Regions from separate parts of the Homo sapiens genome. Here all the other regions are linked to region 4. Evidence: fine-mapped QTL for protein levels in blood plasma. A gene starts in region 4. Each other region holds a variant in brackets. All regions are shown on one strand. Distances are between the middles of the regions.

Region 1 (8,023 bases), 11 kb before region 4:
TCCCTGAGCCTGTTGCTCCATCCATCAAATGGTCTTAATAAGACCACAAGATTGTTCTGAAGATTAAATGAGGTAATTTGGAAGTTGATATAAATGGTGTCCTAGGCTTAGTGAACAACTTGAGGAGGCCAGCCTGGTTTCAAACCCCAATGACAGGATTTGAGTCTATAGGTCTCAGTTTCCCTTCCTGTACAATGAAGAAACCAACAGGCTCACCTCAAAACTGGCTGACAGAGAGTACCCAAGAAGTGTTTGCTGATATTATATATGGGAAAGTTGGATTCAGACATGTGGCACAGGCTCAATAAATAATAATTTTAGGCTGAGCTTCGTGGCTCAAGTCTGTAATCTCAGCACGTTGGGAGGCTGAAGCGGGACGATCACTTGAGCCCAGGAGTTTGAGACCAGCCTATGCAACATAGGGAGGCCCCGTCTCTACAAAAAAATATAAATAAAAAACTAGCTAGCTGTGGTGGTGCACACCTGTAGTCCCAGCTTCTCAGGATGCTGAGGTAGGAGGATAGCTTGAGTGTGGGAGGTTGAGGCTTCAGTGACCCATGATCATGCCACACACACAAAAAAAGGAATAATTTTATTTGTTTAACAAACACAATATGCCAAGCACTGCCCTAAGAACTTTACAAATGTTCACAACCTTCAACAACCCTAAGAAATAGGCAGAATTATTATGTTTTACAGATAATAAATCAGAGGCCCAGAGAGGGTAAGTAACTTGTCCAAGGTCACACAGCTAACAAGCATTGGAGAAGGATGTGAATCCCAGTGAACAGTGACACTGTTACCTTCTCAAGAACTAAAGACAGAGATACAGGGACTCCCTGCCAGTCATGTCCAGTTGTTATTAACATCATTTCCGATTCCCCATATAGCTCACTCCTTCCCTCACTGGGTATATCTCTGACTCATTGTCCTTCTAAGCAACTCTGAAAGATAGGCATCACGATATGATTTGGCTGTGTCCCCACCCAAATCTCATCTTGAATTGTAGCTCCCATAATTCCCAAGTGTTGTGGGAGGGACCTGGTGGGAGATAATTGAATCATGGGGGTGGTTTCCCCCATACTGTTCTCATGGTAGTGAATAAGTCTCACGAGATCTGATGGTTTTATAAAGGGTTTCCCCTTTTGCTTGGTTCTCATTCTCTCTTGTCTGCCACCATGTAAGACATGCCTTTCGCCTTCCACCATGATTGTGACACCTCCCTGGCCACGTGGAACTGTGAGTCCATTAAACCTCTTTTTCTTTATAAATTACCCAGTCTTCAGCATGTCTTTATCAGCAGCATGAAAATGGACTAATACACATCACAAACCCAATTTACAGGCAAACAAACTGAAGCTCAGAACAGCTTGGAGAGTTTTCCAGGGAACACAGCAGGAAGTACAGGTTCTACATTTCCCTGACCACTAGGGGTTGGGATTCAACAGCTGTGGACTGAGAACCTGCTCAGGCAGTGTGGAGACTGCCACACTCCAGCCCTCGGTAGGGGTAGACTAGGTAGCTGGGACCAGCATCAGGAAAGGCCCCTCGGGTCCTGGGAGAAGGCGACCCTGAGAGACTCACCTACCACCTTGACCAGGACTGAAGTGGAGCGGGCCAGGCCAGTGAGAGAGTTGGAGGCTGTGCAGTTGTAGATCCCGTCGTGTTCCCAGGTCAGAGCCCTGATAATCAGCTGCTCACCCAGGTGCTCCCCGGTGGAGTGTTCAAGAGTCCAGCGATACTCAGCACCTGGCTTGGACTCGGCCCAACACTGCAGGGTCAGGCTGGAGTTGAGCTCTGCCTCTATGGTGCTGATCATCTCAGATGCCGACTCCCTGGTGATGTGCACTTGGTCAGGACCATCTGTGTGTAAAGCCAAACGTGATGCACCCTGGCCCCCATCAGCGAGTCATCCCATTCTGCCCCATTCACTTTCACCTTGGAATTTCAGTAAAATAAACAGAACATACTCCCTTTTCCTCCTTAGCTCTCTGACAAGCAGAGTGTGGTCCACAACACTGGGGGTGGGGCAGATCAAAACAAAAACAAGGGCCAGGCATGGTGGCTCATGCCTGTAATTAATCCCAGCACTTTGGAAGGCCGAGGCAGGCAGATCACGAGGTCAGGAGATCGAGACCATTCTGGCTAACATGGTGAAACCCCGTATCTACTAAAAATACAAAAAATTAGCCGGGCGTAGTGGCACGCACCTGTAGTCCCAGCTACTCGGGAGGCTGAGGCTACAGAATTGCTTGAACATGGGTGGTGGAGGTTGCAGTGAGCCAAGCTCATGCCACTGCACTCCAGCCTGGGCGACAGAGCAAGATTCCATCTCAAAAAAAAAAAAAAAAGAAAAAAAACTGCCTTTGTAAAAGTTAATTCAAAGAAGTGTTTTAGGTCACCCAGGCATCAGAAATTGTTGCTAGGCCAAGCGCAGTGGCTCACACCTGTAATCTTAGCACTCTGGGAAGCCGAGGTAGGTGGATGTGAGTGGAACTCCTGAGACCAGGAGTTCAAAACCAGCCTGACCAGTGTGGCGAATCACGTCTCTACTGAAAAATAAAAATAAAAACTAGCTGGATGTGGTAGCACATGCCTGTAATTGCAGCTACTCGAGTGGCTAAGAATCACTTGAACCTGGGAGGCCGAAGTTGCAGTGAGGCAAGATTGTGCCACTGCACTCCGTCCTAGGTGATAGAGTGAGACTCAAAAGGAAAGAGGAAAGAAAGAAAGAAAGAAAGAAAGGAAGGAAGGAAGGAAGGAAGGAAGGAAGGAAGGAAGGAAGGAAGGAAGGAAGGAAGGAAGGAAGAAAGCAGGCAGGCAGGCAGGCAGGCAGGCAAGAAGGAAGGAAGGAAGGAGAGAGAGAGAGAGAGAAAGGAAGGAAGGAAGGAAGGAAGGAAAGGAGGGAAATTGTGGCTGCGTCCTGTGTATATAATCCCTAACTTCTAGTACTGTGTATTCTCAATGGTATAAACACGTGCAAATTTTCTTTGTAATGTCAGAGGGGATCATTGTCACTTTTCTCTTCCACCACATATAAGAAGGAAACAAATGAAAGTAGTTGTTGGATTTCTCATATAAATTAAAAGAGTTTAGGCCTGGGGCTGAGGCTCATGCCTGTAATCCCAGCACTTTGGGAGGCTGAGGCAGGGAGATCACTTGAGTTCAGGGATTCAAGACCAGCCTACGCAACATAGTAAGACCCTGTCTCTATTTAAAAAAAAAAACCTAAAAGAGTTTAAGAGTCATACTTTATTTAAATTAATGTAAAATACT[G/A]GAAAGGATGCAAAAGGTTGCTAATTGAGACATTCTAGGAGGGGAGGAATACCCTGACTCTGCTCCCTCCTAAACATCATTTGAACCTGCTCATTTCTCCCCATCCTGACCCCATTGACACTTGGATCCTTCACCTGCATCCCAGCTCCTCCTGGTCTCCCCATCCCAGTCTCATCCTCCACACAGCAGCCAGAGAAGTCTTCCTAAGTACTAAAGTGTCACTGTCCCTCCTGTGTTCAGAACCCTCTGTGGCTCCCCAGTGCCCTTGGGACAAAGCCTATGTCTGAAGAGGCCATTTACAATTTGATTCTTACAGACCCCCTCCAGCCCCACCTTTCCACACCTCTTGCTCTCATTCAGGAATTAAATCCCACTCGGAGATTCCATCCTTGTTACACTCTCTCTTGCCTCAAGGCCATCGCACACTCTCTTCCCTCTGTCTAGAATGCTCTTCCCTGACTCTGCTCTAAGCAGCCTACTCCTACTCATCCTTCAGCTCTTATGGTGGACATCCCCATTCATGATGACCCTTTGCAACATCCCCCAGATGGAGGCTTCCTTTGGGCTCCCCATACCCTCCCTTTGTCCCCCGGGGTCCCATTTATCATGCTATGTTTTATCTGCCTGCTTAGTGACCTCCCCATCCCCAGCAGGCTGTGAAAGCTGAAAATCATGTCAAGTATCAAATGCCCAACATGTTGCTTAGCACAGAGAGAGCACAAAACATATATTTTTGGTTTAATGACTGAATTGAAAAGGAAAGAGGAGTGAGCAACAGAGAAGTGTAAAGAGGAGCAAAGACATGTACTCAACCCCTACCTCTGTGTTCCCTACTGCTTCGCATGTATGAAAGTGCACCCCTCCTTTCTCTCCCTGCAGAAACCTCTTCTCCCCCAATCTTCTCCATCTTGGTTCGTGACTCCTACATCCTTTCGGTGGCTCAGGCAATAAACCTTACAGTCATTCTTGACTCCTTTCTTTCTCTTTCACCTAATATCAGTCAGCAGCATATTCAAAATACATCCACAGTGCAACCATTTCTCAACACCCGACAGTTGCCATTCTGGTCCAGCCCTATCATCTCTTGCTGCGCAACTCTGGCCACCAGGAGAAGCTCTTCAAAGACCTCCAACGGCAGAAATGTAATTGACCAAGGGCCCAATTGCTGTGCCCCCAAATCTACTCCCAGCCCTTCCACAGGCTGCACCCTGCCAGTACCTGAGTGCATCCAGGAAACTAAGGCAGGCCCCTTCCTGGGAGATATGGAAGGTCCCAACAGCCATGATGGGTGTTCCTTCAAGTGCATGGTTATCCAGGTGCTTCCATTCAAGTCTCTGTCCCTCACCCTGTCACTCGGGGTCACACTTGCATCTCAGTCTCTCAGTCTGATGGCTCTCCCAGCCTCCCTGCAGCTGCCTCCCTAGTTATCCTCACAGGAGCATTTCCCCTAATAAAACCCTTGCATGAATAATCCCGTTAATCCCACCTTGGGGTCTGCTTCTCCAAGGATCTGGACAAATACAACTCCTTCTCTCACTCCCCCTCTCCCCCACTTCTATGTTTGCCTCCCTGTAGACAAAGGCCAGTGAGACCCTGTGAAAGCCTAAATCTGGTGGTGTCCCTAAGCCTTATCACCTGCTTCTCTGTTTATGGTCTGGCTTCTCCACTAGAACATAAGCCCCCTGAGGGCAGGCACTTGGCCCTGTCCAGTGCCCAGATTCATGCCTGACACAGAGCAGGAGCTCAATAATCATAGCATGAATGACTAGAAGGAAGAACTTAAAGAGAAGGAGGGAAGCAGGGAGATGGGGAAGGTCCAGGCCCTGGGTGACTCACAGTTGATGGTCAGCTCAAGGGGCTCACTCCGGGCCCGGCTGCCCCAGTTCCAGACCTCACAGGCATAGGGCCCGGTGTCATTCCGCTGGAGGCCATGGATGATTAGGGTCCTGTTGTCAGCTGACAGCTGCAGGTGCTCACTGGGCAGGAGGGGCTGGCCACTTAGGAACCACTGGACATTCACACTCTGATTGACGGTTTGGCAGGTCAGGTCCACAGACCTAGCATTCTCCACAAGGTTCAGGCTTGAAGGCACGACTTGAGGCATGGTCAGTGTTTCTGGAAACACGTGGAGATACACAGTCAGGTTCAGGGAGATTTCCCTCATCTCCTGCCCTTGTGGGGCCCACAAGTTTTTCCAGGAGTGCGTGCGTGTGTGTGTGTGTGTGTGTGTGTTACAGGTGGTGTATATGATTTGCATAATGCTGGTGTGCGGGGTACGTGTATGTCTTTTGTGGATGAATGTGTGTCGTGTGATTATTATGTGAATATGCAATGAGTTTTGTGTGTATGGAGAGTGTGTGGTGTGTAAGTGTTTTGCGTCTCTTGTGTGTGTTGGGTGTATGTGTTGAATATGAAGTATGTGTGTGGTACACATATGCACTTTGTATGTGAGTATATGCTATGTGTATATATTTGTTGTATATGAATGTGTGTTCTGTGTCTGTGGTATTGTTTGTGTTATGTGTTTGTGTTGTGTGATGTGTGCATATGCTGTATGTGCTGCATGTGGTATGTGTGTGCATTTTGTGTGTGCATTGTGTGTCTGTTGTATATATGTGTTGAGGGTGTTGACTGTATGGTATATGGTGTGTTTTCCATGTTGTCCATCTTGAGTGTCTGTGATGTTTAATGGTTGTAATGTTTAGTAGGTGCTGAATGTCAATGATATGTGTTGTGTGTGTCCATTAGTGCATATTAGGTGTATATATATTTTATGTGAGTGTGTCATGTATATGTGATCTTGTTTGTTGTGTAGATGTATGTGAGATATGTATGTCTGCGTTTTGTATGTCATGTGTGTTGTACATGTGTTGTATGTGTGAGCATTTTGTGTGTGTGTTGTGAGTTTGTGTATATGTGTTGTGGGTTTGTATGTATATGCTGTGTGTATATGTGTATGTGCTGTGGGTTTGTGTGTATGTGCTATGGGTTTGTATGTGTTGTGGGTTTGTGTGTATGTGTTGTATGTCTGATGTGTTACGTACTTTGTGATGAGTGAGTTGTACACCTCTGTTGTGTGCATGCTATATGTTTGTATGTTTTGTGTGAGTGTGTGTTGTATGTCTGTGGTATTGCACAGTTGTGTACGTATTATATATGAGTTGTGTTTACTGTGTGTATTGTACATGCACGTGAGTGTGCTGTTCATGTGGGGATATTATCTGTGTGTGTACGGAGTGTGTGAATGTTGTGTTAGTGTTTTTAAATGTAGACAGTTAAACCCCCCACCTCCAGAGAGTCAAATCATGGGCAACCCCTAGAGAGCCACCAGGGTCTCGTGCAGGATGTGCCAAGCCAGGCAAAGGAGCCAGTGTGCCCAGCCTTCCCTGTAGTCGGAGCCCTGCTGCATTGGAAATCCCCCTGGGTCCTCCTCAAACTCTGGGGTATTGGTGTAGCTCACTGGCTCTTAAGATTTTTTTTTTTTTTAGACAGAGTCTTGCTCTGTCGCCCAGGCTGGAGTGCAGTGGCGTGATCTCAGCTCCTGCAAGCTCCGCCTCCCAGGTTCATGCCATTCTCCTGCCTCAGCCTCCTGAGTAGCTGGGACTACAGGCGCCCACCACCACACCTGGCTAATTTTTTGTATTTTTAGTAGAGACAGGGTTTCACCATGGTAGCCAGAGTGTTCTCAATCTCCTAACCTCGTGATCTGCCCACCTCGGCCTCCCAAAGTGCTGGGATTACAGGCGTGAGCCACTGCACCCGGCCTCTTAAGGTTTTTTTTCAGAGTTCAAGATCCCTTCAAAAATCTGATGACAATCCTAGATCCTTCCTCTAGAACACAGCGCAAACATTTTTCATGCAACTCAATGTCATGCAGGGATTTCTCCCTCACACAGTATCCAAAGGCCCTGGATTAAGAACTCCTGGTTCCTTCTGACATGGCCAGCATCTGACGCTCAGAAGAATGAAGGAGAGGAACCGGGAAAGGAGACTCACCAAGTACTCGGACCTTCAGAGTACCCAGGCTGGACAGGTGGGTGGCACTGTTGGACACCAAGCACCTGTACAGGCCCTCATGTTCTCTGGACACAGCATGGATGGTGAATGTTCTCGTGGTGTGAGACAGAATGGAGTCAAGGAGAAACCAAGTATAGGCACAGGGTGGGTGAGACTTTGTTTCCGCTAAGAAGGTCATGCTGGAGCCCTCCATCACCTCAACCACCTCCCCACTGGCAACACCAGACTCCAATTTGATTTCAACAGGATCAGGACCATCTGAGAGGACAGGAACAATTACAGCAGTAACAACAGCATCAGCAACAGGTCTCTTATGGAGGTCTTTAACGGATCAATAAATACTTTATTTCCCTCCTCCCCACTCAAAGGCTAGATCAATTGCAAACGAGGTACAGCAGTCAGATGGAGATGAAATGTCAGCCTCATCCCTGGGTAAAGCAAGATTGAAAGACACGTCTAAAGTATGCCAGCTGAATGGTTATTGTAGCTCACACCTGTAATCCCAGCATTTTGGGAGGCTGAGGCAAGAGAATTGCTTGGAGCAAGGAGTTTAAAACCAGTCAGGGCAACATACCAAGATCCCATCTCTACAAAAAATTTAAAAATTAGCCCGGTGCAATGGCTCATGCCTGTAGTCCCAGCTACTCGGGAGGCTGAGGCAGGAGGATCGCTTGAGCCCAGGAGGTCGAGGCTGCATTGAGCTATGATTGCACCACTGCACTCCAGCCTG
Region 2 (7,116 bases), 23 kb before region 4:
CTTAAAAAATACAAAAATTAGACAGGCATGGTGATGCACGCCTGTAATCCCAGCTACTCAGGAGTCTGAGGCAGAAGAATCGCTTGAACCTGGGAGGCAGAGGCTGCAATGAGCCAAGATCACGTTGCTACACTCCATCCTGGGCAACAGAGCAAGACTCCATCTCAAAAAAAAAAAACAATTTTCAGAAAATAAAGCGTTAGTACTATGTAATGTAAAACTGACTTTGTTTATCTGTCTTTTGTTTAGTCTTTTTTATTTTCTTTCACAATGAACAAGGTGGTAATGTTTACTTCCAGGAACCTATAAATCCTGACTTAACCTGAATATTACAGGGACTTTAGAAGAGTTACCACTGCTGGGCGCAGTGGCTCACGCCTGTAATCCCCACACTTTGGGAAGCCGGAGCAGGAGGATCACTTGAGCCCAGGAGTTTGAGACCAGCCTGGGCAACATGGTGAAACCCCGTCTCTACAAAAAATACAAAAATTAGCTGGGCCTGGTGGCACAAGCTGTAGTCCCAGCTACTCAGGAGGCTGAGGCAGGAAGGATTGCCTGAGCCCAGGAAGCAGAGGTTGCAGTGAACCAAGATTATGCTACTACACTCCAGCCTCAGCGACAGAGCCAGACCCTGTCTCAAAATAAATAAATGAATAAATAAAAATTTTAAAGAGTTACCACTCAGGAACATTCTAGAAAGATGCCTATCTAATCTAGAGATTTATCTGTCAACTGTCGGGAAGAGCTGAGACCAAAGTTTATATTAAGATTCTGTTTATTGGCCATGAATTGGATAAGGGCTCAAGATACAGTGAAGAGCAAGAAGATTATGAATCCATTTACTATAAATACTAGAAAACAAAGTAAGAGTAACGAGAGGGTAAAAGGGCATGATCTGTCTCTAGGATGTCAGGGGGAGGGGGACATTTCTTGGCAGGGAAGAGGAAAGTTCTCAGGGTTCAAATAGGGTGGTGTTTCTGGTACTACTGAGTGCAACCCTTAAGATCCTAATTCCGGTCTCTTGTATCACATCTAATGATTAATTTTTAAAATCTGAATTAATGTTATCATCATTATGATAGCCATTCAGCTCCAAGGATAGCAACAACGCATTCTGAAAACTCTTCATTTCCAGGAGTTTTCAGTGTTGGTTTCCCCCTGTGTTAACAGTCCTTTTTTGTCTCCTTTGCTTGATCTCTCCTGTAAACATCAGAGGAACCCAGGAATCAGCTGTCAGCCTGTCCCTTGCCTTGTCTTCATCCACTCTGCTTGGGGTTGACATAACAGGCCTATTGCTCAAACTCTGTAAGTTCCCCAGAAGGTCCTGTTTTCCTGACTAGCCTTTGGGCAGCTCTGGGAACTGAGCTCTCATAATGTTCTATCTGGTAAGAGTGCTTTTGTTTGCCTGAGGCCTTGAGCCATGCTGTACCACTTTGTCCAGATGGTTTATACTAACAGTGTAATTTATGGAGGAACATCTGCTTTCCTTCTAGGAGTCTGGAGCTTCAGTGACTGACCCTTTATAAAAACCATGGACACCCAGGTTTAGGTGAGCTTCCCTCGATGGCAATGCTTCACACACGTTGTCACACATCATTGCTGGGGGATTTCCCATGTGCTGTGGTTTGGATATTTGTCTCCTCCAAAACTCATGTTGAAACTTAATCCCCAGTGTGGCAATATTGAGAGGTGGGGGTTTTTAAGAGGTGATTGGCTCATGAGGGTTTTGCCTTCATGAATGGATTAATCCATTCATGGACTAATGGATTAACGGGTTATCATGGGAGTGGAACTGGTAGCTTCATAAGAAAAGAAAGAGAAACATGAGCTAACATGTTACCACACTCAGTCCCCTTGGCATGTGATTCCCTGCACCACTTCAGGACTCCACAGAGAGTCCCCACCAGCAAGAAGTGCTCTCACCAGATGCAACCCCTAGACCTTAGACTTCTAAGCCTCCATAACTGTAAGAAATAAATTTCCTTTTTAAAACAAATTACCCAGATTTAGATATTCTGTTATAGGCCAAAGAAAGCAGACTAATACACCATGTGACTCCACTGAAAGAGAACACTTGGAAGCTGGTGCAGGGTATCCTCCAGACTTCACCCCATGCACCTTTTCCCTTTGCTAATTTTATTCTCCATCCTTTTGCTGTAATAAACTATAACCATGAGTATAACAATTGGGTCCTATGAATTCCTCTAGAAAATCTTTGAGCATGAGGTGGTCTTGGGGACCCCCCTGACAGAGGAGCTCATCCAGCCCCATAACTTTAAGTCCCACTGACAACTCTCAAATGTGTATCTCCAGCCATGATCTGTCTAGATTTTTATGAACAATTGCCTACTTGATTCTGCAACTGATTCTTGACATGTCTAAATTCTTGACATGAAGCAAATTCTTTATTTCTCTCCTTATCCCAAAGTTTCTCAGAAAGTGACCTGCCAATCATCCAGTTGCCCTGGCAAGAAACCATGGAGATATCCTTGTCTCCTAACTCTCTTTACCTTCAGCAAATCTCATTCTGACTCTCTCCGCCCCTGCAGTTCTCAGGATTCTAAGCATTTCATGCCTACCTCTCCTCAGGAGCCTCAATCCCTCACTTCACTACGTGTTTTCTCCTTTTATTAAGAGCTCTTAATTTCTTAAGAGCTCCTTGTTCCTTATCTTCTATCATGATTTGAAAAGCCACTTCTTCTCTGACACCTGTCTTTGTCCCCTACTCCTCTCTGGCTGACTCAGACTCACTCTTCTCTCTGGAGTCCACCAACAGTGTTTGCTCATCCTCAGCCTGCAACTATGATATCCTAAGCTGTTCAGTCTCAAACCTTGGTCCTCTAACTCTAGATCCACGGGCTGTCATTTTTACCCTTACTATTGCTTTGAAAAAAAATATGAGTCAAAATCTAAGATTCTATGGAAGCCAGGGCCTGACCAACCCATTGCAGTAGAACATCACAAGGTCTACAGAGATGACAGAGAATGACTGGCTTATAATATGCACTTAATAAATGTCATTAAATATATGATCAAGCATGGTTTCTCTAGGACTCCTGGAGAAAAGATCTCTGCTTCCATTAGACGGAGGGGTTGATTTGGATGTAAGTGTTGGGCTCTGGATTCACAAGCTCCTGTTAAACAAAGAGAAAATGTGAGCTCCATTTGCTAGGTGGACCCTCCCAGTCTACTCACTGTAGTCTGGGGCCCAAACAGCCTGGAGCTTTCCTTTCTTTGGAAATTCCAAAAATCTTCCTCCATTCTCATCACACTTTAGTAACCCTGGCACATCTCTGTTCCTGGAATGGCCCATGTACTTCCCCACTGTGGTAAACAGACTCTAAAGTGGTCCCCATAATCCCTGCCTCCTGGTATTCATTCCTTTATGTAATCTCCTCCCCTTGAGGGCAAGACCTGTGACTTGCATCTAACCAATAGAATATGGCAAAGGTGGCAGGATATACATGATTGCATGTATGTGATTCTGTTACATAAGATTATGACTTCTGTCTTGGCTTGAAGAAGCAAGATGCAATGTTGTGAGCTGCCTGTGGAGAGGGCCACATGGCAAAGAACTGAGGATGACCTCCAGCTGACAGTAAGAAACTGAGGCCCTCATTATGACAGCCTGCAAGGAACTGAATGCTGCTAATGACCACATGAGCTTGGAAGTGGATCCATCCCCAGCTGAGCCTCAGATGAGACCTGGGCTTTGACTGGCACCTTGATTATACAGCCTTGCAGAAGAGCTAACTAAGCAATGCCTGAACTCCTGACCCACAGAAACTGTGAGATAATGAATTCATGTTGTTTTAAGCTGCAAAGTCTGTGGTAATTCATTATACAGCAACTGATAACTCTACACCCTCTTCAGGGCCTTTTTTACTGATGCCTCTCAAGTTGGAATGTTTCCTTTCATACTGTTTGCATGGTTTGCTCCTTCTAATCCCTCCAGAATGTAGCAGACACTGAGTTCACTGAGTTGACTGACCTAACCTTCTTCCCCACACCACCTCCCTTGCTTGCTTCTATTGAAGAGGCTGGGAATGTTAATGTACCACTTTCTCAGCCTCTGTTGCTACAAGGAGCACCATATGACCTTATTCTGGCTAATGAGATATAAGAGGAAGCTTACTAGGTGGTATTTCTGGGAAGACCTTTTGCCCGACTAATAATAGGAAACAAACATGGCTCCCCTACGCAGACACTGGTGAAGAGAGGGACTTAGGTGGCTAAGTTTTTACCAGTTCAAAGCTGATTAGAGAGCTGACAAAACTAAACATGATCCATACCATGGCCTGAATCAATCTGATTCTTCTATGGAGAATTTGAACCTAGAAATGCTTAAAGGGCAGCAGAAGATGTTGTTATATATACTCTGAAGTTATAGAGAAGCAATGACCAGGACATTTACATAGAAATTCAATCTGGATTGAGAAGAATGAGATGAATTCATAGATTAGTGAAAATGAGAAACTGTATAATAAGAGAGAAACAGCTTCTTGATAGCATTCAAGTCGCCAAGAGGCCCAGGAGTAATTTCTGAAATTGAGTTATCTGATATTTCTCAGTGTTCTCTCAATTAATCCCCATT[C/T]GAACTACATTCAAAGGGTTTAACTTTCTTAACATTAAAAATTCTTGACTAAGATATTAATATATGAAACATTCAGCCAGGTGCAGTGGCTTGCGTCTGTAATCCCAATACTCTGGGAGGCCAAGGTGGGATGATCGCTTGAGCCCAGGAATCTGAGGCTGCAGTTGGCCATGATCGCACTACTGCACACAACCTGGGTGAAAGAGCAATACGTTGTCTCAAAAAACTAAAAAGGTGTATAGGATATTCACATTTTTCAAGAATAGTTATCTGTCTGTTAGGCTAAAATCTACCCTTCTTTTACCTATCCTCCATGGTAATTTATGTGCCCTCTGGAACAACAAGGAACACATTTATCCCTCTACTTGAAGCCTGTCAGACACTAAAATATTGGAGTTCTCTGTCCCTAAACTTTCTCTTTTCCAAACCCAAGAAAACCCTGTCAGTAGGACATGGATTTGAGCCCCTGTTCTGGCCTCTCTCTTATTCCTCCTCTGGATAAATTCTGACTGGTCACTGGCTTGTTCAGAATATAGAATCTGAAGTCCATTCTTGGAATTGGAGTAATCTGGCTGTCCTGATGACAGGGTTGAGATCACTTGCATTCTCTAAAATAATTCTACTAGTCCTTAGAACTATGGAGCCATCACTTGACTGCTCTAAACTTGTTACTGGAATTTTGCTTATGCCTGGATGAACTAATAGTTTTCTTCTTTTTTATTTTTTTCTTTCTGAGACAAGGTCTTGTTCTGTTGCCCAGGCTGGAGTGCAGTAGCTCGACCTCAGCTCACTGCAACCTCCGCCTCCCAGGTTCAAGTGATTCTTCTGCCTCAGCCTCCCAAGTAGCTGGGATTACAGGTGCCTGCCACCATGCCCAGCTAATTTTTGTATTTTCAGTAGAGACAGCGTTTCACCATGATGGCCAGGCTGGTCTCTAACTCCTGACCTCAAGTGATCTGCTCGCCTCCACCTCCCAAAGTGCTGGGATTACAGGCGTGAGCCACCGCGCCTGGCCCAGTTTTCTTCTTTTTGAATGATGTAACTAATCATACCTCTCTGTTTTATTGTTACCAGGAAGCTTAGAGACACATAAGAGATATAGTGGCAGATATCACGTAGGCCCAGTATATATTTTTACTTTTTACCCATATATTGACTTCTTGCTATTGTTAAAAATATTTTTTCTGATTGTAATTTCTATTTCTAATTTAACACCATTTTGTAGTGTTGTATATAAACTGCTTCAAATCTTCCATGGGAAAAACTGCTTCAAATCTCCCATGAGAAAAATGTGGGGAAGTAAATATCATGAATGAAATGAAAGATTGGAAAGGAAAGGAAATGAATGAAAAGGAATAGACTATTTAGGAATGTAACTGAAAGAGATGGCAAAGGCATAAATGAAATGGAGGGAAATTGAATAGGACAGAAAGGAATACAATAAAAATTAAAGGCAGAGAATGGAGTGAAATAAAATGGCATGATGTCCAAAGAAGTGCAAATGAAAGAAATTAAATGAAAAGGAAAATTGTAACAGAAAGAAAGAAATAAAGTAAAATAAAATGGAGCAGAAAAGAGAGTAATAAAATAAGGTAATGAGGGGAGAGAAGTGGAGAGGAAATTAGAGAAAAGTAATATAGTAGAAGGAAAGTATAACATTAAAGAATAAAAATAAAGCAACGAAATTAAAAAAAAAACAGAAAAGGGGGGAAATGGAATGCCATGGAATATAAAATAATGAAATGAAATGAAACTGAAATCAATGGTATAAAGAGTAGGAAATGCAAAGGACTGGAAAGAAATGGAAAGAACTTAAATGAAATGAAAAGGAGTGGAATGGAATGACTTGAAAAGAAGAAATTAAATGGAAAGCTTGAAAAGGAAAGTAATAAAGACAAGGGAATGAAGTGCCATAAAGGGCATGAAGGGAGAGGATGAAGTGAGAAAACATGCAGTAGAATGGAATGGAATAGAATAGAGTGGGGTGGATTGGAAAGAAATGAAAAGGGAAAGGAATTGAAGAGAACAGAGGGAGAGGAATGGAAAACAGTGAAATAGAATTGAATGAAAGGGAAGGGTATGGAGAAGAGAAAGTGAATGGAAAAGAAAGAAGGGAATGGGAAAAAAGAAAAATTGAATGGAAAAGAAATATAAAGAATAAGAACTGGAATGTAGTGGAATGAAGTGAAAACCAATCAAATGGAAATGAATGTAAATAGGGACATTGCCTAGGAAGGAATGGAGAGGTAGGAAATAGAACGGATGAAATGGATTAAATATATGGATGGAAATAAGAAGACTGAAATGGGATGGGAAGAATAAGAATGGAAACGAAATAAAGTCGTGGGATGGGAATTGAGTGGGCTGGAATAAAACAGAGTGTAATGGAATGTAAAATAAATGAATTGAAAGGAATTAAAAGAAAAAATAAAAATGGATAAAATGCAATAGAAAGAAAGGAAAAGAATGAAAAGGAATGAAATAAGAAAGAGATGGAAAGGAGTGTAAAGGGATCAAACAAA
Region 3 (8,023 bases), 34 kb before region 4:
ACTCCTGGGCTCAAGCTATCCTACTGTCTCAGCCTCCCAAGAAGCTGGGACTACAGAGGCACGCCACCACAGCTGGCTAATTTTTTTGTTTTTATTTTTTGTAGAGGTGGGAGTTTCACTATGTTGCTCAGGCTGGTCTTGAACTCCTGGCCTCAAGTGATCCTCCCATGCTGGTCCCCCAAAGTGCTGGGATTACAGGTGTGAGCCACTTTACCTGGCCTAAACTTTTTTTTGAAGAAAAGAGTAATATGTCTATTCTATTTCACCAATGCAGAAATTAATGGTAATAAGGTTTAGTAAGCTCATTTAAGTCCACTGATTGCCTGACACAAACTCTTCTGCTTCCCACTGTCTTACCAAAGTCTGTCTAATCACCCAAGGCCCAGATCAAATGCCACCTCCTCCATGAAGCGTTCCCAGATAGCAGAAAGCTTCATCTCTTCTTCTCTCAGGACTTCTTAGCTTTGGTGGCCCTTTACTATACCAGTAAAATTATTCTCTTCATATTACTACCATTTCTATATACCTCTCCCCTGGGTCCTGGGTTCTATATTAGAAAGCACTGTGTATTTTTTATCTTTGTATTCTCCTCAGTATTGAGTAGGAGCACAATAAAAGTTCTCTGCATTTGACAAGACTAGAGACACGTGCAGAGTTTGGGACATAGGAATAGAATTAAAAACTTTTACTCTACTTTCTGTATGCTCTGGAGCATCTTTAAATTACCCTCTTGTTCAACAGTCACCTCTCTAGGTCATAAAGGAGCATTTCCCTTTTTCTTTGCAGACTTTACGAAATGGGAACAGGAATTAGACTGTTGACTTGCACAGAGAAAAGGGTTGTGGGCAGGAGATAATAATTGTTCCTTCTGTAATGTATGTGGGACCCCATGGGAACCAAAGCAGGGGGAAAGAGACAAGCAGAGCTATCATGGAGTGACCTGTCCGCTTCATAGTAAGACAGTGGTCAAATCAGACCTAGGGCTAGGGCTATTTGCTCACCTATAAATAGAGATGACCAAATATTCCTTTCCCAATCTGAGGTATTCTTGGGGCAATAAAATGAAGTTTCTAATCAAATCACAGAAATATTACTGGACTCAATTCTCAGAGCTTTGCTTTGGGGGTCTACTGGCAGGAAACCCTCTATATCTGTGAGAACATTTAGAAAACACAGGCGTCACACAGGCAGACTTCTTGGTGTGTTTCCATCTCTTCCTGCCCTGGGAGCTGGAAGGTGGAGCTCACATTTCAGCTCAAGGGATATGGCGTCCACAGGGCCCATGTGGGAGGCCCTGAGGTTTCTTAATCACCAAATCTAGAAGGCGTAAAACCAATATTCACAAACTACAGCACTGGAAAGAAGGTTCCCTTCCCTGATTTTCTCAGAAATCATCCTGACAAGAGGATCCCTTTAGTCCTCACGCACAAGAAAATTCCCTCTCCTGCCCCACCTTATCATCCATGAATAATTCTCACTGTCCTGAAATACACAGAATAGACCATCCACATAGGGCCACCAACAACCTGCACAACTTCGAATGTTGAGAATGACAGTGGATGGGTGAGATTCTACCACCTACTTGGCAGCAGTTTTGGTCTCAGTCCCTGAAGGCAGGTAGGGCTCAGAGTTGGCTCAAGGCCTTCGCTGGACCAGCTGCTACTTCCTGTGTATGAGCCACTAAAATCTCTAAGGTGATGCCCCAATACCCAGATGGTTTCTTCCTAGATCAGCTCACTGGACTCGTGGCCTTCGTTCAAAGCAAAGACTTTGGCTCCCTTGATTTTTCTCTCCCTTCCAGGGTTCTAATATCCTTCAGGTCCAAATCAAGTACTTGTTCATCTTCTGATAATAATTAAAATTAACTAGAGGACATTCAGAGTTGAGAAGTGTGGTAGCCAGACTCTGAGATGGCTCCCAAAGACCCTTACTACCTAGTATTCATGCCTTTGTGTAGTCCTTGACCAATGGTACCAAGGTGGGTCTGTGTGACCAACAGAATATGGAAGAAGTGATGGTGTGTCACTTCTGAAATCAGATGATAAAAGACATTGTGGCTTCATCTTGATTGTGTGCAACTAAGTGCTCTTGCTCTCTCTCTCTCTCTCACTGGGATCACCTGCTCTGGCAGAAATCCACTGCTATGCTGTGAACGCCCTGGAAAGAGGCCTCTCTGGTGTACAGCACCTCTTGCCAACAGCCATCTGAGTGAGTTTGCAACAATATCCTCCCACCTAGTCAAGCCTTCAGAAGTCAGCAGCCCAGACAACAACTTGCCTGCAACCTCATCAGGGACCCTGAGCACCAGAAACAACCAGTTAAGCTGACCTGGATTCCTGACCCTCAGAAATTGTGTGACGAAATAAACATTGGCTATTTTAAGCTGCAAAATTTTGGGGTATGTAATAACAGATAACTAATACAACAAACAGGATGTTTTTGCTTTCCCTATGTAGCCTTGGAAAGTATAAGAAGCGCGTTTCTGGTTGTGAGAACTAAGTCGTGCAGGGCAGTGCTGTCTGTCTCATCTTTCCCCACAGTGCTTTGCACAGGGCCTTACACTGGTTAGGCAGTCAATAAATATGTGACAAAAGTCATATAATGAACAGACTTCTAATTCAGCTCACAAAAAAGAAAATGGTAAAAGGACCATTAAGAGTCCCAGAAAACACCTAGTGCCTCGCTTAAATTAGAACACCAATGACCACATCAAAACACATTCTACCAGCCAGGCACTGCGGCTCACCCCGTAATCCCGGCACTTTGGGAGGCCAAGGTGGGAGGATGGCATGATCCCAGGAGTTCGAGACCAGCCTGAGCAACACAGCGAGACCCTGTCTCTACAAAAAGTAAAAAATAAAAAAATTAGCTGGGCGTGGTGGTGTGCACCTGTAGTCCCAAATACTCAGGAGGTTGAGGTGGGAGGATCACTTGAGCGCAGAAATTCCAGGCTGCAGTGATCTATGCTGGTGTGCCATGTACTCCAGACTGGGTGACAGAGTGAGACCCTGTCTCTTAAAAAACAACAAAATAACAAAACCCCACACATTTTACCTGTAGTTTTGATAAAGATATAAATGTAAACTTATATTTGCTTAACTCTTTCTAAAACAATTGCACATGTATACATGGAATCCCATACAAAACATTTATATCAATGCTATTTGTAACAGCAAAAAAATGTAACACTAAAGAGCCATTAACAATAAACCCATAAAACCTGTAACATATTTAGAAGGTGAAATGTGGGCACTAGGTATGCGTAGTGGTATTAGGATGTCACTGCTCCCAGCCCTCCGCGGACAGACAGGGAATCTGTGTGCACACATACGCACACCGATACAAGCACACATCTCTATATATTTCTAGATTAATGTGTACTGAAAACCATGAGCCCACAATAAAACCTCCAATTCCCACTGCACACCAGAGTCCACTCAAATGTTCTTTCTTGCCGTATCTGTACCTCCCTGATTTGATGGCAAGGCGCCTGGCTCCAGTCCCTTATATATACACTTACTTATCTGATCTAGCCCCCTGTAGGTAGTTCCTCTCCCATTTCCACAATGACGCCCTCTCCCTATGGATGCTTTCCCAGACTCCCTGGGCTCTGCCACCCCACACTCGGCCACCCTCTGCCCAGGGGAGCTCCTCACCCTGCTTAGGCTTTGACTCCCCGGGCTAGGCTGCCCCATCTCTCAGACTCACTCCTCTGCCACTTGGACTTGGACAGCCCACGTCAGGCCACCCCACTGTGTCAGTACCCTCCACATGCCGCTGGGCTCTGACACCCCTGCAGGCCACCCTCACGCATGATGCCCTCAACATGCTCATGCTCTGACATGCCACACCAGGCTGCACCTGACCCCCAACACAGGTGCACATCTCACCCCACTCTGGCTCCAACACCCCATCTACCATGGACACCTGCTCACTGCACTTGGGCTCCAACTACCCACAATGAAGCACCCCCTCTCTGGATGCCTTGCTCACCTGCTCTGACCCCATCACCCCACACCAGATCTCCATATATGGACACTGGCCTCAGCCACTTGGGCTCTGACACCCACATTGGGCTGCACCACGTGCACAAGCGACTTCTTCATTCCACTTGGGCTCTGACTATGCTGGGATGTCATCCTGTGCAGATGCACTCCTCACCCTGCTTGGTCACTGACACCCTGCACATGGACACTCTCTTCACAGCAGGCAGTCCTGACAACTGTAGGTGCCCCCTAACACTGCCCCACCTCACGGCTTCAAGGCTGACTTGTTCAGGAAGAGAAAGGAGAAGCTCTAATTTAACAGTTTTAAGAAATTAAGAGTTTTCAAAGAATATTTGCGGTGGGAAATGTTCTAAATTGTTAACTTGTTTTTTAGAGACAGAGTCTCACTCTGTTGTCCAGGCTGCAGTGCAGTGACACAATCATAGCTTACTACATCCTAGACCTCCTGGGCTCAGGCGATCCTCCCACCTCACCCACTCAAGTATCTGGGACTATAGGTGGACACCACTATCCTGGCTAATTTTTAAAATTTTTTATAGAGACAGGGTCTCACTATGTTGCCCAGGCTGGTCCTGTACTCCTGGCCTCAAGCAATCCTCCCACCTCGGCCTCCCAAAGTACTGGGATTATAGGTGTGAACCACTGTGCTTGGCCAATTGTCAATATTTTTACCTTAAAGTGTACTGTACAAAAATATGAAAATACAAGCCAGGTGTGGTAGCTTATATCTGTAATCCTAGCACTTTGGGAAGTTGAGGTGGGAGGATGGCTTGAAGCCAGGAGTTCGAGACCAGCCTGGAAAACATAGTGAGATATCGTTTCTACAAAAAATTTTTAAAATACACACACACAAAAAATATAAGCCAGGCTTGGTGGTGCCCACCTGTAGTCCCACCTATTCAGGCGGCTGAGGCAGGAGGATGGCTTGAGCCCAGAAGTTTGAGGC[G/A]GCAGTGAGCTAGGATTGTGTCACTGCACTCCAACCTGGACGACAGAGCAAGACTCTGTCTCAAAAAAAAAAAAAAAAAAAAAAAAAGAAGAAAGAAAAGAAAAAGAAAATACAGATAAATAAATGATAAAACAACTACAGATAATGTTTGTTAACTGATTGCTATATTTATAGTCTTCTAACATATTTTCTATATACCCAAAAACTATATCTCTTTTTAAAAAGTGATGATTTCTAAGTGCAATTTACTTAACATAGGTAATAAATAACTTTTTCTGTCATTAAATTTGCATTATCATCAGTTTCAATGGCTACAGTGTATTCTATTTCATGGTCTTATCGTAATTCATTCAGCTATCCTCTTACATTGCACATTTAGTATATTTCCAATTGTTCATTCTCAAAGCTGTGAATTGCTGGCCAAAAGGGAATCAGCATTTTAAGGGCTTTTGATTCAGGATGCCAAATTCCTTCCAGAAAGAGTTATCTGGGCTAAAAAGGTGAGGCAACTAGCAGGGAGATTCATAAAATATATAGTAAGTGTTAGAAGCCTGATGGCCATGAGGGCCTCAAACCCCCTAAAAGGCTGCAAAGAGAGTCAGGGAGGAGCCACAGCCTCCCAAGCTGAGAGGGTCAGGCTGCAGACAGACCCAAGCTCTGGGTCTCCACTCACCTGTGCACAGACCTTCGGGGGCTCTGGGGGCTTCTCATCCTGCTCTTCCATGCTCTCCTCCAGGCACAGCAGGGTGCTGAGGTCCTGAGCTGCACTGAGAGAAGCCCCAAGTACAGCATGAAGATGTAGGTCTGCCGGAACCGCTGGGCCCCCCACCCCCATTAGCCCCTGCTCCCAGGATGCAGGATGCATTCCCATAGCAAATGCACTTCTGGAGGTTCCTGCCAGCTTCCTGCCCAAATACCTGTGTATGTACTGAGAGTCCCTCAGTCCCTCTCCCAGGTCAAGTTTCTGCAGCTCCAACCTGGTTCCTCCACCATCTTGGGCCCCTGGACCATCTACCTGTAAGCCCAGCTTGTGCCCAACATGGCCTTCTGCCCACCACCAAAGTCTGCAGCACCAGTCCATCCCTCTCCTATTCACTGGGCCCTGGGATCCCCACAAATATCAGGCATATTGAGGACCCCCTGGTGTTCACCCCATCCTACCCCTACCAACCTCAATCTACAGCCCCAAACCAGCACTTCTTCCTAGGGCCAGAATCACACTCACTGCCTAACTGCATGAAGCTGGTGACACAGCTCCACTGCTCCCAGGAACTGATTCAACAACTAAGACTGATCCTACCGTTCCATCAGCCAGACCTGTCCCTCCAGCAACTCAGCACAGAGGGCCACCCACATCCTGCTCAAATAGCCAAGCATTTATGCACAGAGCTCAGCTATACCCACATCCTGTTCCCTCCACACTTCTGGGGTCCACTGGCTCCTACTCGAACAGCACCAGCCAGATTCCCACCCTAACACCCTCCCAGGCCCTGAATTTGTAGCTCTAAACCAGTCCCTCCACCAACTTGGGTATACTCAGGCCTGAAACTACAACAAGGCCTGCATAGGGCTGGGGGCCTCCAACAGACACCAGCACAAGCCAGACAAAAGCAGCCCTACCCAGGCTCTAAATACATGTCTCAGAAGCTCAGGTGCCTCTGTACCAACTAGGTGTTTTGGGATCCAAGACTAGAGGGCAAATCCTACCCTAGGCACCCCACCCTCTGCACTCCATCTCTCCCACTTACTCTCTCCCCTGCTCCCACCATATTCTCACGCAGCATAGCGTAGGTTCACAATGCAGCTGTTTCCTGAAATTGCACCCAAACTGTTTCCTCCACCTTACTCCACAGCCCCCTGCTTGAGCCACACCTGCCCAGATTCTGACCAAACATCTTTCGGGGGCACCTGTGGCTCAGGAAGATCCTGTCTTTCCACCAAACTGGGCACCATCAGGCTGTGATCAGGGTTCCAATCACACAAAGACCCCAGCACCCTCTGTCTAAAACTCATCTCCGGCCTCCTGTTTCCCAACCAAACACCGGTGTGTGTGCACAAGGGGTGCCTGACACAGTCCCGCCCCTCTGCAGCTGCTCCCCCCCACACACCTGGGCATCCTCAGGCAGAATCAGGGTCCTAGGACTGCCCATGCCTCCCCAATCTGCCCAAATGCCAGCACACGTGCAGAGTGTTGCTGGAGCAGCCCCGTGCCTCCTAAGACCAGATCCAAACTGGAGCCCCCAGGCCTCTATTCCACAGCCACTGCACACGGGCCACCCACCTAGACTCCCTCCTACTGATACAGCCACAGAGCAGGTTCGTGCTCACAATCTGCATCCAGGACCTGGCTCCTCTGCCCGTCTGGGGGCACACCATGCTCCTGAGTCAACAATCTACATCCCTCACCCTGTGTCTCAACCTGCCTGGGACATCTCAGGTACCCACAGCCTCTGTGTAGGTTCTGGGGTCAACTGCCCCACTATTTGCCCGCAGCCAGGACACTACAACAACTAAACAGTAGCTTGAGCATACAGCTCCATAATCAGCCCCAGGACTTGGGCACTCGCCAGCGTGGGGGTTCTCGAGCCTACGATACAGCAGCTCAATGGGAACTGGGCCCTTTGTCCTTCTCTTGCCCAATCATGACGGCCTGGGTGTTGTGCAGTCAGCTCTTCCCGGGACCAAATCTGCAGCACAGGCTCTGTCCCTCTACTAACCTGCACATTCTCACGCCTGCAAATAGCGTACCCAAGTAAAGGTCTCAGCAACACCTGCTTCATAACGATGCTGGCAACATACTGCTTCCTCCCCAGCTACCAATTTGATGGCAGCTGTTGCAGCTCTGTCCTTCCTGGACTTAAATTCTGTATCTCCAACCCGGAGTCTCTGCCCATCTTGAATGCTCTAGAGCTCTGCACTATCCTACATAGGTCCCTACTATCAGTTCAAGTTTCTGTTTTCCATTCAGACACCCCCAGGACGTGCAGGGGGCCCTCTGCCCAGAACCTGTTTCTAGGCCCTGATACCCTCCTTCAGCCTGGGAGTTTGCTGCCCATGGGTAATTCCCACC
Region 4 (8,023 bases):
AGAGAGGTGATGTCACTCACCAAGATGGTATTGTCAATGGCAGAAGCTAAACTTGAACCTGGCCTGCCAGGCCCTGAAGACTGTGCTCTCAACACTGTAATTCCTCCTGTCAGCCCAGAGATGGCCACACAGCCAACCCTTGATTAACAGGTACTTCTACTGTGATCTTGGTGAAAAATATTAACTTTTGGTACTTCCTCTGATGTGCCCCAGGCAAGATCTCACTTGCATGGGGAGGAAAGGAGAACAAGATAGCAGGTTTCCAGTTTTCAACGGGGTGTGGTGGCTCATGCCTGTAATCTCAGGACTTTGGGAGGCTGAAGTGGGAGGATCACTTGAGCTAAGGAATTTGAGACCAGCCTGGGCAACATAGTGAAGCTCTGTCTCTACCAAAAATTTTTAAAATTAGCTGGGGGTGTTGGCCCGCATCTGTAGTCCCAGCTACAGTCTGAAATGGGAGGATCACTTGAGCCTGGGAGTTTGAGGCTGCAGTGAGCTATGATTGCACCACTGCACTCCAGCCTGGGTGACGGCAAAATCCTGTCTTAAAAAAAAAAATAGAAACACACAAAAAAATGAGTTCCCAGTTTTCCATTTGATCATTCTGCACACCACTACGGGGGCTGCAAGAGACTATGGGACCTGGCGCGGTGGCTCATGCTTGTAATCCCAGCTCTTTGGAAGGCGGAGGTGGGTGGATCACTTGAGGACAAGAGTTCGAGACCTGGTCAACATGGTGAAACCCCGTCTCTACAAAAAAATACAAAAATTAGCCAGGTATGGTGATGTGCACCTGTAACCTCAGCTACTTGGGAGGCTGAGGCACAAGAATCTCTTGAACCCAGGAGGAAGAGGTTGTCGTGAGCCGAGATTGTGCCACTGCACTCCAGCCTGGGTGACAGAGCTAGACCTTGTCTCAAAAACAAACAAACAAACAAAAAAAAAACACGAGACTTTGCTGGGGCCCAACCCCAGCAGCTGTGCTCACACGCAACTGATCTCATCTCTCCCATGAGCTCAATTAACACAGACCCTCTGCACTTCTCAAAAGGGCCCCAATGTGGCCCAAACACTGCCCCATTCCCTGCCCAGTGAGTGAATAAGGGCACGAGCTCTTAGGAACAAATATGAACTCTGTCACTTACTAGCCCTACTATCATGGGTAAGGGACTTTCTCTTTGTGAGCCTCAGTTTCTTCCACTGAAAAATGGAGATAATAGTAGAACTCAGCTCATCTGGTGGTTGTGAAGGCTGAGTGAGATATCAAATGTGGCATGCTTAACACAGTTCATAGCAAATATTCAGCCACCATGATGGCAACGATGATGATGATGGTGGTGGTCTTGATGATGAGTTCTTGTGTCTGTGGTTTCTCTGCCTCAAATGCTATTAGAGGTTAGGCTCACAGCCTCAGAGCCTGACCACCTGGGTTTGAATCTCATCTTTGCCATTTATTTGGTCAAGTGATGTTCCCTATCTGAGCCTCAGTTTCCCCATTTGAAAAATGGCGGTAGTAACAGTTCCAGCCTCACTTAACTGTCATAAGGATAAGTGAAATGATGTAAGCAAAAGCACTGATGGGGCCTCATCATACCCACCCGAGACAGGAAGCCTCTCTGTGGAAAGCCTGCCATGGCCCCTTCCCTCTGGCTTTCTTCTCACAGGGTCCTGCCGTTGTCCTACCAGGAAGAGGCAACACTTACAGACTCACTGTGGATGCGGCTGATAACTCTCAGCCTCCCAGGACTACAGAGCCCCTGCACCCTTCCAGGGTTAGCCAGGAAGCGCCGGCCCAGAGAAGGAGAAGCTGGTCTCAGGGACACACAGCAAGGCTGGGCTGAGCCCTCACCTCTGCACATGACCTGTTGCAAAATCATGTCTTCACTTCCAAAATACTTTTTTCATCAAAATATTCTAGTTTCTGCCTTTTGTCTCAGATGCCTTCTAGGCAGAAATTTCACATCCATCCCCATCCTGATCCGTGGACCTGGCCGCTCAGGGCTGGCACAGCCTCCCTCCACCTGTCTCTCATCTGCTTGTCTGAATCTCTGTGATACTCCAACTCTCTCCCCGCGTTTCTGAATCTATTTCTGGCTGTGTATTTACCCAGTTCTTTCCCTGTCTCTTTGTCCTCTGTCTCCCTCTCTTTCTGCCCCTTCCTGTTTTTCCCACTGGTATCTCTTTCTTTCTTTTCTTTCTTTCTTTTCTTTCTTTCCTTTCTTTCTTTCCTTTCTTTCTTTCCTTTCTTTCTCTCTCTCCCTTTCCCTCTTTCTTTCTTCTTTTTCTTTTTTTTGACAGAGTCTTACTCTGTCACACAGGCTGGAGTGTAATGGCACAATCTCGGTTCACTGCAACTTCTGCCTCCCAGGTTCAAGCAATTATCTGCCTCAGCCTCCCGAGTAGCTGGGATTACAGGTGCCCGCCACCACACTCAGCTAATTTTCGTATTTTTAGTAGAGACGGTTTCACCATCTTGGCTAGGCTGGTCTTGAACTCCTGACTGCGTGATCCACCCGCCTTGGCCCCCCAAAGTGCTGGGATTACAGGCGTGAGCCACTGTGCCTGGGCCCCACTGGTATCATTTCTAAGGTTATTTTTTCACCCTTTGTCTCTGTCTCTGTGCGTATCTCTTCTCCCTGTATTTCTCTCTCTTTCTCCCTGGGTCTCTGGTTCTGTGGCTGTGACTCCATCTTTCTCTGTCTCTCTCTCTTTCTCTGTGTACACAGACACACAAACACACATCTTTGTCTTTCTCTCTTGTCTCTGGTCTCTGTTTATGTCTCCTTCTGTCAGTCTCTTGCATCTGTATTTTTTTCTGTCTCTGTCTCTCTGTGTCTGTTTCTCTCTCTGCCTCTGTCACTCTTTCCTCAAGTATACACACACACACACACACCACTGACAAATATACATATATCTTTGTCTCTCTGTCTCTGGTCTCTGTTTATGTCTCCTTCTATCTCTTTTGTATCTATGTTTATTTCTGTATTTCTCTCTTTCTTTCTTTTTTTTTTTTTTTTTTTTGAGACAGGGTCTTGCTGTGTCACTCAAACTAGAGTGCTATGGTGTCATCTCAGCTCACTGCAGCTTCCACCTCCGAGTTCAAGGTTCAAGTGATTCTCCTACCTCAGCCTCCCAAATAGCTGGGACTATAGGAGTGTACCACCACACCCAGCTAATTTTTGTATTTTTAGTAGAGACGGGGGTTTGCCATGCTGGCCAGGCTGGTCTCAAACTCCTGGCCTCAAGTGATCCACCCACCTCGGCCTCCCAAAGTGCTGGGATTACAGATGTGAGCCACCACGCCTGGCCCTATCTTTATATCTGTATCTGTCTTTATTTCTGTCTCTGTCTCTGTGTCTCTATTTTTTTTCTCTGCCTCCATCTCTTTTTCCTCGAGTGCACACACACACACACACACACACACACACACACACACACACCGCTGACAAATAGATGCATACAACCTCCCTCCTCCCGCATCTGAAGGAAGCAGGGCACTCACCTGAAAGCAGGATTCCCATCCAGTGGTGTCCCCATGAGTCAGCAGGCCCCATGGGTCCCGGCACCTGACTTCAGTGTGCCAGGCCGTCTGTCGCCCCGGCTTGCACACACAGATACAGTCCTCACTCCAGGTGCAGCCCCTCCACCTCCCTTCTCTCCTCTCCCACCCTGCTACAAACTCACACACACACTGCAGTAACTGCAGCTCCCAGGACAGACAGGGGTGGTGGCAGGAAAGTAACTTTGACCCCACCTCTGCCCTCTACCCCCAGGGCTCACTTTCCTTCCCTGCCCAGCACAAAGAGCGGGAAGTCCAGGAACCCTGGAGACCGGGAACTGCGATTACGATAGTCAATAGCAATGATAATAAAAAACAACAATGACCAGCTCCTTGTCCCCGAGAGCTTAATAACCAGTCCCAGTGCCAAGTTCATTATAAGCAGCCAATAAATATTAAATGAGCCGGAATCATGCTTGTGATATAGATCCTGGTCATAAACAAAAGCTCTGGAGTCAGACCGGCAGGAATCTCAGACTGAGCAGGACTGGGGGACCTCCAGGAGGAGCCTGACGTGGTCTTGGGAGAAGGGGCAGGGAGGGCCTCCTGGAGGAGTGGACATCTGAGCTGAAACTTCGAGAACATAGTAAAGGTTCCATATATAAAAGTTACTTAAAAAAAAATCTCTATGACAAGACAAGCTGGTGGTCTTTGACAGTGTATAGACCTAGACCCAGAAGATTTAACAGAACCGACCAGCTGAGGGAACTATCATTAATCCATGTATCCATCCATTAATTTAACAAATACTTCCTGAATTCTCTTCCTTTTTTTTTTTTTTGAGATGGAGTCTTGCTCTGTTGCCCAGGCTGGAGTGCAGTGGCATGATTTCCCCTCCCTGCAACCTCCACCTCCCAGGCTCAAGTAATTCTCCTGCCTCAGCCTGCCTAGTAGCTGCAACTACAGGCGTGCGCCTCCACACCCAGCTAATTTTTGTATTTTTAGTAGAGACGGAATTTCACCACGTAGCCCAGGCTGGTCTTCAACTCATGAGCTCAAGCAATCCGCCCGCCTCAGCCTCCCGAAGTGCTGGGATTACAGACGTGAGCCGTCGCGCCCAGTCCTGAATTCTCTCCTATGCTGACCCCTGCTCCTGGTGGTACTGGGGACACAGCTCTGACTAAGACAGCCCCAACCCTGTTCTCACAGAGGCTCACAGTCCAGTGGGGGAGACAGAACTGTCCCCAGACAGTGACAACCCAGAGTGGGCAGGGCTGGGATGGAGGAATTCAAAGGGGGCGCCTGGCTCAGCTTCAGGATCAGGGAGAGCTTCCTGGAAGAGGGGACATGGTAGCTGAGACCTGAACAACATAGGGGTGAGCCAGGGGGAGCAGCATGTGAAAAGTTTTTGAAATTGGGGCACAGAAGGAAGGTCAGGTGGGTCTAGAATAGAGGAAGTGAGAGAGGATGGATGATTCAACAGGCGGCTTAGAAAACTCTGGAACTGTTACTTAGGGTATGAGGGGCAGCTTGGCATTGCAAGAAAGAGATCGTGACTCACTCAGCTGCCTCGTTTTGCTGCCCTGCTTCCGTCTTGCTCCTGCTACAGGCAGTCACAAAGTATCTGCCCTGATAAAGCATAAGGCCGAGCCAGCTGGCTCTGGAGCCAGAGTGCATGGGTTCAAATCCTGACTCCCCGACTTGCTAACTGGGTGGCCTCAGCAGGTCAGCTCCCCTCTCTAGGGACTACTTTCCTCAGCTCTAAAATGGAGATGATGCCCAGGCACACTGGCTCACATCTGTAATCCCAGCACTTTGGGAGGCTAAGGTGGGAGGATCACTTGAGCCCAGGAGTTCAAGACCAGCCTGGGCAACATAGTGAGACCCCATCTCAATTAAAATAAAATAAAGCAGAGTAGATGATGATGCTTTTGTCTCCTAGGAAGCTCTGTGGTTATGAGCACTTGACCTCAGTGTGCCAGGCCATCTGTCACCCTTGCTTGTGGCACCATTTACAAGCACTAGGCTAGCTGGCTGCCTGGGCTGGCAAGACAGTCCTTTACATCCCAGCCATGGTTCATTGGGAAAAATTTGTCACCCTTGCATGCTTCCGTGTGCTCCATCTGCAGACTGGGAGAAATCACAGACTCCCCGCACAAGACGGTTGTGAGGATCGAATGAGTGAGTGCCAGGAAAGTGCTCAGAGCAATGCCTGGCACAGCGTAAGCCATCAACAAATGTGAATTCCCACTGGATGTCATGACTGCCCTGCATCATAATCTCACTGCAGCCCTGTGAGGGGGTACGCATTCATTCACTCTGTTACTGCTGTGGACTGAATGTTTGTCTCTCTGTCATTCAGATGTTGAAGAAATCCTGATCCTGCACGTGATGGTTTTAGGAGGCAGAAACTTTGGGAGGTAATCAGGTCCCTCCCAATGGGATTAGTGCTCTTATAAAAGGGACCTCAGAGAGCTCTCTTGTTCACTTTCCACCACGTGGGGAATGCAACAAGAAGACAGCAGTCTGTCACCCAAGAAGAGAGCCCCCACCAGAACCTGACAAAGCTACCACCCTCATATAGGCCTTCCAGCCTCCAGAACTGCATGAAATAGCTTTCTGTTCTTTACAAATCACCCATTCTGTGGTCTGTTCTAGCAGCCCGAACTGACCGAGAGCCACTCAACATATATTTCGTGAGTGTCTACTGTGCCTGTTCTAGGTGCTGGGGACATAGCAGGTAATGAGACCATCAGACGAGGCCAGGTGCAGTGGCTCATGCCCATAAATCCAACACTTTGGGAGGCCAAGGTGGGATGATTGCTTGAGCCCAGGAGTTTGAGACCAGCCTGGGCACCCCTCTCTACAAAAAAATTAAAATAAAAAAAAATAGGCATAGTGGTGCGTATCTGTGGTTGCAGCTACTCAGGAGGCTGAAGAGGGAGGATTGCTTGGGTCTGGGAGTTCGAGGCTGCAGTGAGCCATGATCGCACCGCTGCACTCCAGCCTGGGTGATGGAGCAAGACTCTGAAAAAAAAAAAAGAAAAAGAAAGAAAGAAAGAGAAAGAAAGGAAAGAAAGGAAAGAAAGGAAAGAAAGGAAGAAAGAAAGAAAAGAAAGAAAGAAAGAAAGAAAGAAAGAAAGAAAGAAAGAAAGAAAGAAAGAAAGAAAGAAAGAAAAGAAAGAAAGGAGGGAGGGAGGGAAGGAAGGAAGGAAGAAAGGAAGGAGAAAAAAAAAAGAGTGGGGTAAGGAATATGATTATTCCATCCCATAGTTAAAAACACTGAAGCTCACAGAGGTGAGATGACTTGGATAAAGTCACAGGACATCTCAGGCCCTGGCCCTCAACCTCCATGTGCGTGTGCCTTTTTCCAAGGGCCCTTCGCTATTCCCCAGCCACACCTTTCTGTACACCCAGATCAATGAACACCAATGTGGCCACATCACCCCGCCACGCCTTCAGACTCTATGGGTCCCTGTACTGAAGGCGCCTGACCCAGACCAGCCCAGCATTCAAGGCCTCTGCCACCCACCTCGTTCTTCCCAGAATGTCTGAACCTTCTGACCACCCACCTTCTCCTAAGCCAGCTTCCCTCCCCACCACCTCTGCCCTGAGGCACTCTCCCCTCTTCCCCTCCTCCCCATCCAAGACAACAGAGCTGCTGCTGGAATGGACTTCCCAAATCTGCCCCTTCATGCAAAAGCAGGGTTTCCTCTCCTGAAATTCCCACCAACTCACCCACTCAGCCCCCAGGGCAGATTCTGTTTTTTGCTGCCCCAAGGAAAGAAAGGGACTTTCTGGGCCCCTCCCTGTAGCACAACTTCCAATTATTTCCAACAGGTGAAAATAAACCAGGTCCTCTCCACTTCCCACCCTTACCTACCAGGTCTCAGCCATGCAGGCTGGCTCAAAATTGTGTCTTCCCACGGGACTGACCTCCCAGCCCAGGATGCTGCCCTATGACTGTGCCCTCACTGAGGCCATTCACTCAGCAAAGATTTGTATGGCCCTACTATGTGCCAGGCACTGTTTCAGGTATCAGGGCACGCCAGCAAATGAAACAAACAGAGATCTCTGCCTTTATAGAAATGACATGTAATGAGTGCTGGGAGGGGAGGAGGGAGACAGATAATAATTGAGATACGTGGAAAATAACTGGCTGGGCACAGTGGCTCATGCCTGTAATCTCGACATTTCGGGAGGCTGAGGCAGGAGGATCACTTGAACCCAGGAGTTTAAGACCAGCCTGGGCAATGTAGCAAGATCCCATCTCAAAGTAAATAAATAAATGTGCTTTTTTAAACATTTAAAAACATGAAAATATTAAAATTAATTTTTTTTTAAAAAAATTAGAAAACGTAGCCAGCCACAGTGGCTCATGCCTGTAATCCCAGCACTTTGGGAAGCTGAGGTGGAAGAATCACTTGAGCCCAGGAGTTCAAGACCAGCCTGGACAACATAGGGAGATCCCCATCTCTACATAAGATCAAAGTTAGCTGGGTATGGTGGTGTGTGCCTGTACTC

Which allele goes with the higher level. Positions count from the first base shown, and alleles are read on the strand shown. Strength reflects both the effect of a copy and how common the allele is.
As copies of A replace G in region 1, the plasma level of the protein whose gene starts at base 3,720 in region 4 goes down (strong association).
For the plasma level of the protein whose gene starts at base 3,720 in region 4, C is the high allele of the variant in region 2 and T is the other (strong association).
As copies of A replace G in region 3, the plasma level of the protein whose gene starts at base 3,720 in region 4 goes down (strong association).

What was found. PIP is the chance, under the fine-mapping model, that this variant and not a neighbour inherited with it causes the effect. The UK Biobank Pharma Proteomics Project read protein levels with antibody pairs (Olink). The fine-mapping took linkage between variants from a reference panel, not from the people measured, so its PIPs are less certain.
Region 1: its variant is fine-mapped to the plasma level of the CEACAM20 protein (UK Biobank, PIP above 0.99).
Region 2: its variant is fine-mapped to the plasma level of the CEACAM20 protein (UK Biobank, PIP above 0.99).
Region 3: its variant is fine-mapped to the plasma level of the CEACAM20 protein (UK Biobank, PIP above 0.99).

What each region holds. Positions count from the first base shown.
Region 1 is chr19:44,515,362-44,523,384 of GRCh38, forward strand. CEACAM20 (CEA cell adhesion molecule 20) reads right to left here. Exons shown (of 12, transcript NM_001102597.3): 4 at 7,273-7,551; 5 at 5,113-5,391; 6 at 1,585-1,863. Among named protein-coding and RNA genes, the nearest start is that of CEACAM20, 10 kb to the right of the region's middle. The variant G/A (reference allele first, on the strand shown) is at 3,277.
Region 2 is chr19:44,503,081-44,510,196 of GRCh38, forward strand. It overlaps CEACAM20 (CEA cell adhesion molecule 20), which reads right to left. Exons shown (of 12, transcript NM_001102597.3): 12 at 3,079-3,134. The coding sequence ends at 3,081. Among named protein-coding and RNA genes, the nearest start is that of ZNF180, 6.1 kb to the left of the region's middle. The variant C/T (reference allele first, on the strand shown) is at 4,595.
Region 3 is chr19:44,491,658-44,499,680 of GRCh38, forward strand. It overlaps ZNF180 (zinc finger protein 180), which reads right to left. Exons shown (of 5, transcript NM_001278509.3): 2 at 5,627-5,720. The coding sequence starts at 5,677. Among named protein-coding and RNA genes, the nearest start is that of ZNF180, 4.9 kb to the right of the region's middle. The variant G/A (reference allele first, on the strand shown) is at 4,954.
Region 4 is chr19:44,525,956-44,533,978 of GRCh38, forward strand. CEACAM20 (CEA cell adhesion molecule 20) reads right to left here and starts at 3,720. Exons shown (of 12, transcript NM_001102597.3): 1 at 3,503-3,720. The coding sequence starts at 3,554.